Linked DNA regions of Homo sapiens: region 2 is linked to region 1. Evidence: fine-mapped expression QTL. A gene starts in region 1. The other region holds a variant in brackets. All regions are shown on one strand. Distances are between the middles of the regions.

Region 1 (5,242 bases):
TCAAACATTCTATGTTACTTTTACTATTTTTGTTTGTTTTGATAAAGAAGACCTTCACCCCTCTTTCAAGATCCATTTAAAACGCCGTCAACTACTGTCCTATGATACAATGAAGTGTATGGACTTTGAAATATCACAGACCTAGGTTTGAATCTGTCCATTAATGTAATCCAGCAGGCACCACCATAGTGACCCTGGACAAATTATTTAACCTTACTGAGTCTTAGTTTTCTCACTTGTTAGAGACAATGCCACCAATATCAATGGCTTGCATGAGGATTAAATAAAATACTATCTCCAAAATATCTAGCACAATGACCACCATTAACAAAGTCTCCCATATAAAACTGTCTTCCTTTCTTGGATTCTTGCCTAATTCCACCAACCTGAAATAACTGTTCACTCCATAAGCTTTAGTTTTTCCTAATAAATTTTATCATGTTTTTCTGCCACATTTGGTGACTTGTCTTTTGGTAAACCTCTGGATATCAGTAAAGGTGTCCTACACATTGATCTCCATTCATTCTGACTAGCAGACAACCTTCAAAACAGTACTCATACAGTGTGATTGTTATGTGAATTTTGAGAAAATCCAATATTAAAAAAGCTGACAGGTGTGAAACAGAGAGTACACTTCACCAAAAAAATCAACATACTGGCTAACTAAATGACGAACTAAAACTCACTTCTCCAACCTAACAAAACCATCTCTTAAAAGGTCTTTGTTTTCAATAAGCTGATAGATCAAATTAAGCCCCCAACTTCAGTTCTATCCCAGTATAATACTCAAATCTTACCACTTTTTTAAAAATACAGAAGTGGCTGGGCGCGGTGGCTCACGCCTGTAATCCCAGCACTTTGGGAGGCCGAGGCAGGCAGATGACCTGACGCTGGGAGTTCGAAACCAGACTGACCAACATGGAGAAACCCCGTTTCTACTAAAAATACAAAATTAGCCGGGTGTGGTGGTGCCTGCCTGTAATCCCAGCTACTCAGGAGGCTGAGGCAGGAGAATTGCTTGAACCCGGGAGGCAGAGGTTGCAGTGAGCCGAAATCCCGCCGTTGCACTCCAGCCTGGGCCACAAGAGCAACACTCCGTCTCGAAAATAATAAATAAATAGGCCAGACGCGGTGGCTCAAGCCTGTAATCCCAGCACTTTGGGAGGCGGAGGCGGGCATATCACGAGGTCAGGAGATAGAGACCATCCTTGCCAACACAGTGAAACCCCGTCTCTACTAAAAATACAAAAAATTAGCCGGGCGTGGTGGCGGGCGCCTGTAATCCCAGCAGTATACTCAGGAGGCTGAAGCAGAAGAATCGCTTGAACCCGGGAGGCGGAGCTTGCAGTGAGCCGAGATCGCGCCACTGCACTCCAGCCTGGCGGACAGAGCGAGACTCCGTCTCAAAAATAAATGAATAAATAAATAAATAAAAATAAAAAATAAAAATACAGAAGCAAATGAAAATATCTGAACTGAAAAGTTTAGCTATGTTAAGAAATATTCCTAATAACACATTTACAATTTGAAAAATCCCCTTTACCCTTTAGGGCAGTATGACAAGCACACACAAAAATAAGTGCAGTGATAACACCTTGCCACCCTGGAGTCTTTCTGAAATTTTAACGACACACCAGGGCTAGGGAGTGGGAGGGTAAGGGGACTAAAAGTTCTAGATAAAAAGCCACTTTAAAAACCAAATAAGGTTCTAAGTGACCCTGATATAGGTAACCATGCCACTAGCTTTAAATATAAAAAAAGAGTTCCTACAGTTTTAAATTTAAAATTAAAAACAAAAAAAAAACTCCTGCAAGAATAAAGTCAATGATTTTCAGGATCCCAAACACGTCTCTACTTATAACCACCCATATCTTGGAATTAAAGCTTGTTAGTCAAAGTCACAGGACATATTAACCTAACTCGTTAGTGAACACTCATTAGCTCAATTCAAGCTCCAGAACATAGTTTCGGAATACAGCACCCGTTCTGCCTGGCCGACTGCCCTGGTCAGCACAGGCACTCGCTCTCCAGTCTGTCGCTAAGCTGGATTTGATTTTTAACGCTTTACAAAGAGCTTTGACATTAAGGAAAAAGACGTGACACTTACCTTGAGAAGCGAAGGCAGCCTAACCAACTTCCGGTTTTGTTACAACTTGTATCACATTTCAGCAGCTGGGTGGAGCCAGTTAAGCCTTGAGCCAAAAGGGAACCTTTCCCAAACTAAGCTGCAGAACTTGATTTGCAAGACCAGTGCTAGTTTTAGGACTCCATTTCTGAAAACTTAGAATTCTGTTTTACACTAAGGAACAGTGTTTGCCAACTAGTACCTACTTCGCCACAAAAATTATAGTTTTTGTGTTTAATTGCAAAACTATTTGAAAATACCTGTTCTATAATAGTGCTAAGTAAAAGCAAATTAACTTTTAAAAAGTGGAAAAAGATCAGATTGCATAGAACCGAAACCTTTCTGCAGTGTGAATGATATAATGCAAAAGAAATCTTTTATTTTGCAAATTACCCCTGAAATTTAGGAGTTTTGTTTCTTTTTAAGCCTTTAATCTGTTTCACAAGACTCTTTTGCAAAAGAAAAATTTTAGGGCTAGGAAAAGACAATGTAATTGAATTTTTAACAATCTTTGTTTTTATTTTGTTTTTTGTTTTCCTGTTTTTTACTTTTTTTCTTCTCTTTAATGTAATTGAAAATATTAAACATTCCATTTCAGACCTTGAGTGACATTGTAATTGCCCAGTGGGTTCACCTTGCCCGCTGTCTAGACAGAGCCGATTTATCAAGACAGGGGAATCGCAATGGAGAAAGAGTAATTCACGCAGAGCTGGCTGTGCAGGAGACCGGAGTTTTTTGTTTTGTTTGTTTGTTTGTTTTGTTTTGTTTTGTTTTGAGACGGAGTCTCTGTCTGTGGCCCAGGCTGGAGTGCGGTGGCATGATCTCGGCTCACTGCAGCCTCCCCGTCCTAGGTTCAAGCGATTCTCCTGCCTCAGCCTCCCCAGTAGCTGGGACTACAGGCGCCCGCCACCACGCCCGGCTAATTTTTGTATTTTAGCAGAGACAGGGTTTCACCATGTTGGCCAGGCTAGTTTGGAACTCCTGACCTCAAGTGATTCCACCTGCCTCAGCCTCCCAAAGTGCTGAGATTACAGGCATAAGCCACCGCGCCCAGCCCGGAGTTCTATTATTACTCAACACAGTCTCCCCAGGATTCGGAGATCAGAATTTTTAAAGATAATTTGGCGGGTAGGGGCTTGGGAAGTGGGAGTGCTAATTGGTCAGATTGGAGATGGAATCATGGGGGGTCGACGTGAGGTTTTCTTGCTGTCTTCTGTTCCTGGGTGGGATGGCAGAACTGGGTGAGCCCAATTACCGGTCTGTGTGGCATCAGCTGATCCACCGAGTCCAGGCTCTGCAAAATATCTCAAGCACTGATCTTAGGTTTTACAATAGTGATGTTATCCCCAGGAGCAATTTGGGGAGGTTCAGACTCTTGGAGCCAGAGGCTGCATGACCCCTAAACCATAATTTCTAATCTTGTAGCTAATTTGTTGGTCCTGCAAAGGCAGACTGGTCCCCAGGCAAGAAGGGGGTCTATTCAGGAAAGGGCTACTACCAATTTTGTTTCAGAGTCAAAACATGAACTGGATTCCTTCCCAAAGTTAGTTTGGCATATGCCCAGGAATGAACAAGGACAGCTTAAAGATTAGAAGCAAGACAGAGCCAGTTAGGTCTGTTCTCATTCACTGCCATAATTTCCTCAGTTATAAAAGGCTTTGCAAAAAGCCTTTTTGCAAAGGCGCTTTCAACATATGCAGACTGGAAAATAGATTATGACCCATGCCTTGACCTGTGAATGCTGGTTATCAATCAACCCCAGTAAATTCTTTAAACCATTTTTAAAGAGAGAACAGAGAAAGGAACACCATCACGTTACGCTTTCTCTTAAAGAACTAGTCACAATTAACAAAAGCCCCTCTCTACAGGTTATTAAAGAGAGGCTTTAAATAAAGATGACCCAGAGTTGGTTTGCTATCCTAAAGCTGCTGGGAACATGAATAGTTTTAAACTAAGTCAGCTGATCTTCAGTTCTTCAAAGCCTCAAGTGGTGAAATAGCCTTCTGCAGATAACAGACCCTTTCCAGGAACTGTCCCCATTGCATGCCAAAAGTATGATATGTCTATAAAACAAAAACTCTTCGACTATATTATCAGAACCCTACATTCTAAAGCACTCTTAGGAAGTGGTACGACACAGTGGGAAGAACTGAATGGAGAGAGAGGCTAGCTTTGTCTAAAACAACCCTTTCACTAGGCTCAGTGGCTCACATCTGTAATCCCAACACTTTGGGAGGCCGAGGGGGGTGGATCACGATATCAGGAGTTCAAGACCAGCCTGGCCAAGATGATGAAACCCTGTCTCTACTAAAAACACAAAAATTCGCCAGATGTGGTGGCACACGCCTGTAATCCCAGCTACTCAGGAGGCTGAGGCAGGAGAATGCTTGAACCTGGGTGGCAGAGGTTGCAGTGAGCAGAGATCACACCACTGCACTCCAACCTGGCCAATAGAGCAAGACTCCATCTCAATAAATAATAAATAAATAAAACACCACCCCTTCTGAGACTATCATTTCTCTCCATGTCCCCAGCTATAATTCCACCTTATCATTCCCTTCCAGATCACCTCTACCAGACTCTTCATCAACTCATCAGTTGTCACAAAGGAGACCAATTTTATTAAAATTAGTTTAATGGAGCTTAGATCCTAAGAAGTTAAAGCTACCCTACTGGTTACCATTCTCATGCCTCTATATCAGCAGTTCTCAAACTTTTTTTATTTCAAGGTCCCTTCACAACTTTGAAAGATTATTATGTACATCAGAGATGCTTCTTTATGTGGGTGATATCTATTAATATTTTTGTATTAAAAATTAACAGAAAAAGTTAAATATTCATAAATTTGTTTTTAAGTGACAATAATAGTTACATGTTAACACAGTATCTTTTCTGTTGCTTATATTATTGTTTTTCAACAATAAAAAATTTAATGAAAAAGTATAGCATTTGACTAGTCTAAAAAAAAGAAAAAGTATCATTGTTTAAATTGTTGCAAATCTCTTTAATGTCTGGCTTAATAGAAGACAGTAGGATTCTCATATCTGCTTGCATTCAATCTTTTGTGATATCATGTAACACCTCATGTAGCCACTGGAAAACTCCACTGTATATTCA
Region 2 (5,242 bases), 27 kb before region 1:
AAAGGCACTGATGACTACTAAAATAGGACAAAAGAGCAGGAACACATGTTTTAGTTCTGGCCACTTGAATAAACAATTCTGGTTTGAAAAGCATTACAAAAAACATGACATTTTATGCAGAACAACTTTTCTTAACTGTATTTCCTGCTTTATCGCAAAGAGACAGACAGACATAAAATGGCAAATACACTGGAAATAAAATGATCTTCCAAACTTTCCTTAGGACAGCCTGTTCTTGGAAGTAATTGCCCAACTGTTAAAATCATACAGTACTCAAAGCCGTTTAACTTAGAATCTGTTCTAAGTTAGCTTCTCCTGGATGATCATTTGACCCTGGAACAAACAGTTTCAATGATTCTCCTTTTGGTTTTTTGTTTGTTTGTTTTGGGGGGGTTTTTTTAGATGGAGTCTCACTCTGTCGCCCAGGCTGGAGTGCAGTGGCACAATCTTGGCTCACTGCAACCTCCACCTCCCAGGTTCAAGTGATTCTCCTGCCTCAGCCTCCCGTGCAGCCGGGATTACAAGCGCCCGCCACGACGCTAGGCTAATTTTTGTATTTTTAGTAGAGGTGGGGTTTCACCATCTCGGCCAGGCTGGTCTTGAACTCCCGACCTCGTGATCCACCTGCCTCGGCCTCCCAAAGTGCTGGGATTACAGGCATGAGCCACCATGCCTAGCCGTGATTCTCCTTTTGTTACCACTTATGTAAGTGAGAGGTACCAACCATCCACTGATCATGAGACAATGCAAAGGATAAATAGCCTTTACTGGGGCCGCTCATTTCAACCATCACCGATTGGTCATCTCTTGTGAAGGACAAGAAGACACAGGAAGCCTCCTTCTCTGGGTCACAGTTCAAAGGACTCCTAATACAGAACTTCTTGTTCCCACAATCTGAGGCACTGAACTAGAAAAATGACAGAGGAAAAAAAAATCTTAATTATCAAACAAGCAGTTCATTGGCAATGACAGAAGAATAACTACCTTCAAGTACGGGTAGCTCCCAAATTAATGAGAATACCTTTCCATAATAAGCATTCAAATAAGGAAACAAAAGACACATCCCAAATTAAAAATGATCGGAGCAGTAGTTAGGTTATGAACTTTTAAACTTAATTAATTTTAATTAAAATTTGGAAAACATACACTTGTTGGGCTGTAATTGTGCAAGGGTATTAAAGCTCCTGTAATACACAAAACATTTCACATTAAGTAAGTTTTGGAGCAAAGTTTCTGATAGGTTTTGAGAAATTTTTGAGTTAATATTTCAGTCCCTAAGACTTAAATGACACTAACGTTCCTGCCTAAAGGGTATCCTCTAGTTCTCAGAGATGAAGATTTAAAAAGCAAACAAATAAATACTTAGAAAGCTATTATATTTAGGTTGTGGATTCTGCTTCTAGAATTCTGATTCAAATTTCGTACTAAAATGACATAAGAAAAAAATGGTCGCCCCAATTTACCAGCATTCCAAATAACCATAGTGATTTATTGGGGGGAGAAATAAGCAACAATCGGATGACTTAATCCCGAGCTTCTTGATAAGGAATATAAGACGAAGAGTCTTAGAAAAAAAAATCAGCTGTATAATCTGATAAATGAGCAGACTTTGTTCGAATGCTGTGACAGTAAATTTCAGAAGAGAGCTAAACATTATGTAACTAGAGTTCATGGAAATGTAAAGACAGATCATACTAGGGTGAAGAGAACAAGCCACTGGGGAATTAAGAAACTTGGACTTTGGTCTCTGCTCTCCCCTTCCCTACATCATGTTTGCCAAAGGACTTGTTCTCTCAGGATCCCTGAACCTTCAACTACACAACAAGAAAACTGTAAGAAATAGACCCTGAGGTATCTTCGAGCTCTAAAAATGCTATAAACCTTTGACTCTGAATGAACCTCCCTATAATTAGAGATTATAAACATGGCACAAAGACACAATAAAAGTTCCAACAAGAGCCTTTGATTGAATATACGGAAAGACAACAATATTGTCAACAGATTCCTACTGGGAAGCTCAGGTCCAAACTGACTGTGTATTTCCCTAAAGCAGCTTTTAATTAAATAAGGATTAAGCCTAAACTGAGAGCTAGTACAAATAACAGATCTAATTGTATGGTCAAACGAAAGTGCAACAATCATAATAATGTAATCAAATATAGTGCCCATATGCTATAAGACGTTGAAGAGAAGGAAAACAAAATAAGGAGCAAAGCGCATTACTTTGTCTTCTCTATGTGAATAAAAAGGTACAGAAGGATAATAAAAAGAAGGAAAAAGAAAAGGAACTAATGTTTACTGAATATCTATTAAATGCAAGACACAGTTATAGAAAACTTACATTCATTATTTTAATTCTTACAGTGATACTAAGAGCTAAATATTATTACATCTCTTTCTATAGGTGAGGAAACTGAGACTGAAAATTAAGTAATTTGCCCAAAGACACACGAAAATTAGGCAAGTCAGTATTTAGGCCCACGTTTGTTCTTTCAACTGAAACAACCTTTCTCAACACGTTTTTTTTTTATTGTATCCACTTCTGAATTGAGAAGTCTAACTTATCAGAATTTCCTGCAGTAAAACCCTTCTTCCTTATGTTTCTAATATGCATAACACTTTCCAAGATACGTCTTGTCAATCATAAATCTTTTAAATCAGAGGGCCTAGATGAAATTCTAACTGATGAATTTACAAGACATTTTCTGTTGTTCAGCATATACAATTCCCTAGGACTCTCTGACCTTAATGAAATGAGATCTAAGAGTTATTATCACCATTTCAAGAATCTCCTCCAAATCTTGTCTAAATTTAACTTAAGCTCTTCTTTTGATATCTGGCTGTGTTTAAAAGAAA[GA/G]AAAAAAAACTATTGCTTCATCAGATTTATTTTCAAATGAAAACATATCCACCACCAGTAAAGACTACAGGTGAATGTCATGACCAAACCTTGAACATGCAGGGTCTTGCATTCCCTTCATTCTAACCTGTAAGTCATAAGGTTGCAATGAAGGCTTCCTTCAGATTCCTACAGAGGACTCCAAAACGTGCTACCACTACCCAGCACAGCTACTTCTCTATGCACTTTGCCACACAAAATACACAGAACCACAATTTCCAATCACAAATTTACCTGTTTGCTCACATAGAGAAAACTAAGTACAGCACTTTACTCCTATGTAATGTCTTATTTTGTTTACCTTCTCTTCTGTATTTTATAATATATGGACATTATATTTGGCCACATATTATTTAGATTACATTTAATGAAGCTATAAAAATGTTACTAAAGCTGGGCACAGTGGCTCACACCTGTAATTCCAAGCACTTTGTGACTCCAAGGCAGGAGGATCACTTGAGCTCAGGAGTTCGAGACCGGCCTGGGCAACATGGTGAAACCCCATCTCTACAGAGAAAATAAAATTGTTACTTACTGGTTTGGTTAAGTGGGAAACGGGAGGTAACGTTGGCAAAGGTACTACTGTAGCTTTAGGTGTTGTAAAAGGAAATGCATTTGGTTGTGAAATTATAGGACCAGGAATCTTCACCCAGTAGATTTTATACTTCTCAACAACTGTGACTCTGAAATGCAATACCAGTGAGATTAGAACCCTAATTGTGTCCTGTCACAATCAGATCAAAACGTTAAAGGAAAAAAAAAAGAAAGACTAAACTAGAAAAACATGACTTACTACCTAACAGGACTATTAATTTTGCCTGAGGCAAATCTCTAACCACTCTCTCCCACCCGATCACTTGACAAATTTTTATTGCTTTCTCTCCCTCTGTCCCTCTTTCCTTATTTGTCTGTTTTGGGGGCATATTCACAATAGCCATGATGTCAGACCCAGGGACAAAACTGCACAGATTTCTACTTCCTGGCATATGAAGAACATACTACAAGTCATTTCAGAGTGCAGTATTCAATTCTTCCAAAGGGCATGTGTAGCAAGCAACAACAGCAACAAGCTATAATAGAGGCTGCATCAGTAACCATCAGCTTTCACTGGGGTCACACCCCCTTTTTCACATTCCATCTAACATACCAGTGCAGAGTTGTGTTACTGTGTGTTGGGGACCCACGCACAAAGTGAAGAAAACAGTCATGTCAGGATAGCAATCCTTCCCTTAAAATATATGTCCATATCACCCCTCAGGAATCATTAGATGGCATTATAACATTCCATTTCCCCTTGTATGTAGGATAAGGAAGAAGTTCTGTTTTAATTCTACTGAGTTTCATAATTTGAGAGGCATGCAGTCTTTCTGAGAGTCTAATCTGCAAGTTGTAATACTGCAAAAGAGTAAGAGTCATCCAAATTTCAAGACTTTCATTTGTATTCTCATGCTAATACAGGAGCCAATCTAAAAGTAGTATTATATAACATAAAGACTCAAGTATTAATTGATAGCTCTTATTAGGATTAAGGCAGTACAAGACTTCATTCACTTAACAAATGTCTATTAAATGTGTATTTTGTGACAGGTCCTGTGCTAGGTGATAGGTATACACTGGTAAAAAGCAAAACAAACTCCTACATCAGGAAGGTTGTGTTATTACTATACCAAAGCTCTCCTACATGTGTGAATGTCCAATAGGTACAGAAAATGATACAGACTAATTATGGTTTCAATTATACTAGTAGTTACAGAGTTGTAAACTTTTTTTTCCTTTTTTTAGAGATGGGGTTTCACCATGTTGCCCAGGCCAGTCTCAAAATCCTGGGCTCAAGTGATCCACCACCTTGGCATCCCAAAGTGCTGGGATTATAGGCATGAGCCACCATGCCTGGCCCAGAATTATAAACTCTTATACTCACAGAAACTGTGTGTGATTTGGAGCACTGCTTGGAGCATTCCAGTAGACTTTAATTTCTGTTTTTTTAGATGCACTTCTGTGACTCACTGCTGATCCCTGAAATAAAAGGGAAAAGAGCTACCATTCAGTCACTCAATAGCTCAGCATGGCTGGAACTTCTATCATTTTGCGAAGTAATTTATCATTGCATGACATTAGCATTCTGGTGAAGACTATTTTATTTAGAAGAAGGACTCAGGCACTCCATAAATGAAATGTTGATTGGTTGAGAACATATTAGCAGCTGGCTCTGTGAATAAATGAGAGTCCACAGAAATCTAAGAACTGAAGAGAGCTGTGAACACTGGGTACGTTAACACTAGATAGAGCTTGCTCATTGTTTCATGTACATTATAAATTTATATCTCTTCCATTAATAGATACAAA

Direction of the effects. Alleles are on the strand shown, and positions count from the first base shown. SD is a standard deviation of normalised expression in the study named.
For the expression in monocytes after R848 of the gene that starts at base 2,136 in region 1, GA is the low allele of the variant in region 2 and G is the other (moderate effect, 0.41 SD a copy in Quach 2016).

Evidence for each region.
Region 2: its variant is fine-mapped to the expression of FRRS1 in monocytes after R848 (Quach 2016, PIP 0.95).

The regions. Positions count from the first base shown.
Region 1 is chr1:99,764,500-99,769,741 of GRCh38, forward strand. It overlaps FRRS1 (ferric chelate reductase 1), which reads right to left and starts at 2,136. Exons shown (of 17, transcript NM_001361041.2): 1 at 2,108-2,136.
Region 2 is chr1:99,737,362-99,742,603 of GRCh38, forward strand. FRRS1 (ferric chelate reductase 1) reads right to left here. Exons shown (of 17, transcript NM_001361041.2): 5 at 4,818-4,912; 6 at 3,432-3,579; 7 at 725-907. Among named protein-coding and RNA genes, the nearest start is that of FRRS1, 27 kb to the right of the region's middle. The variant GA/G (reference allele first, on the strand shown) is at 2,857.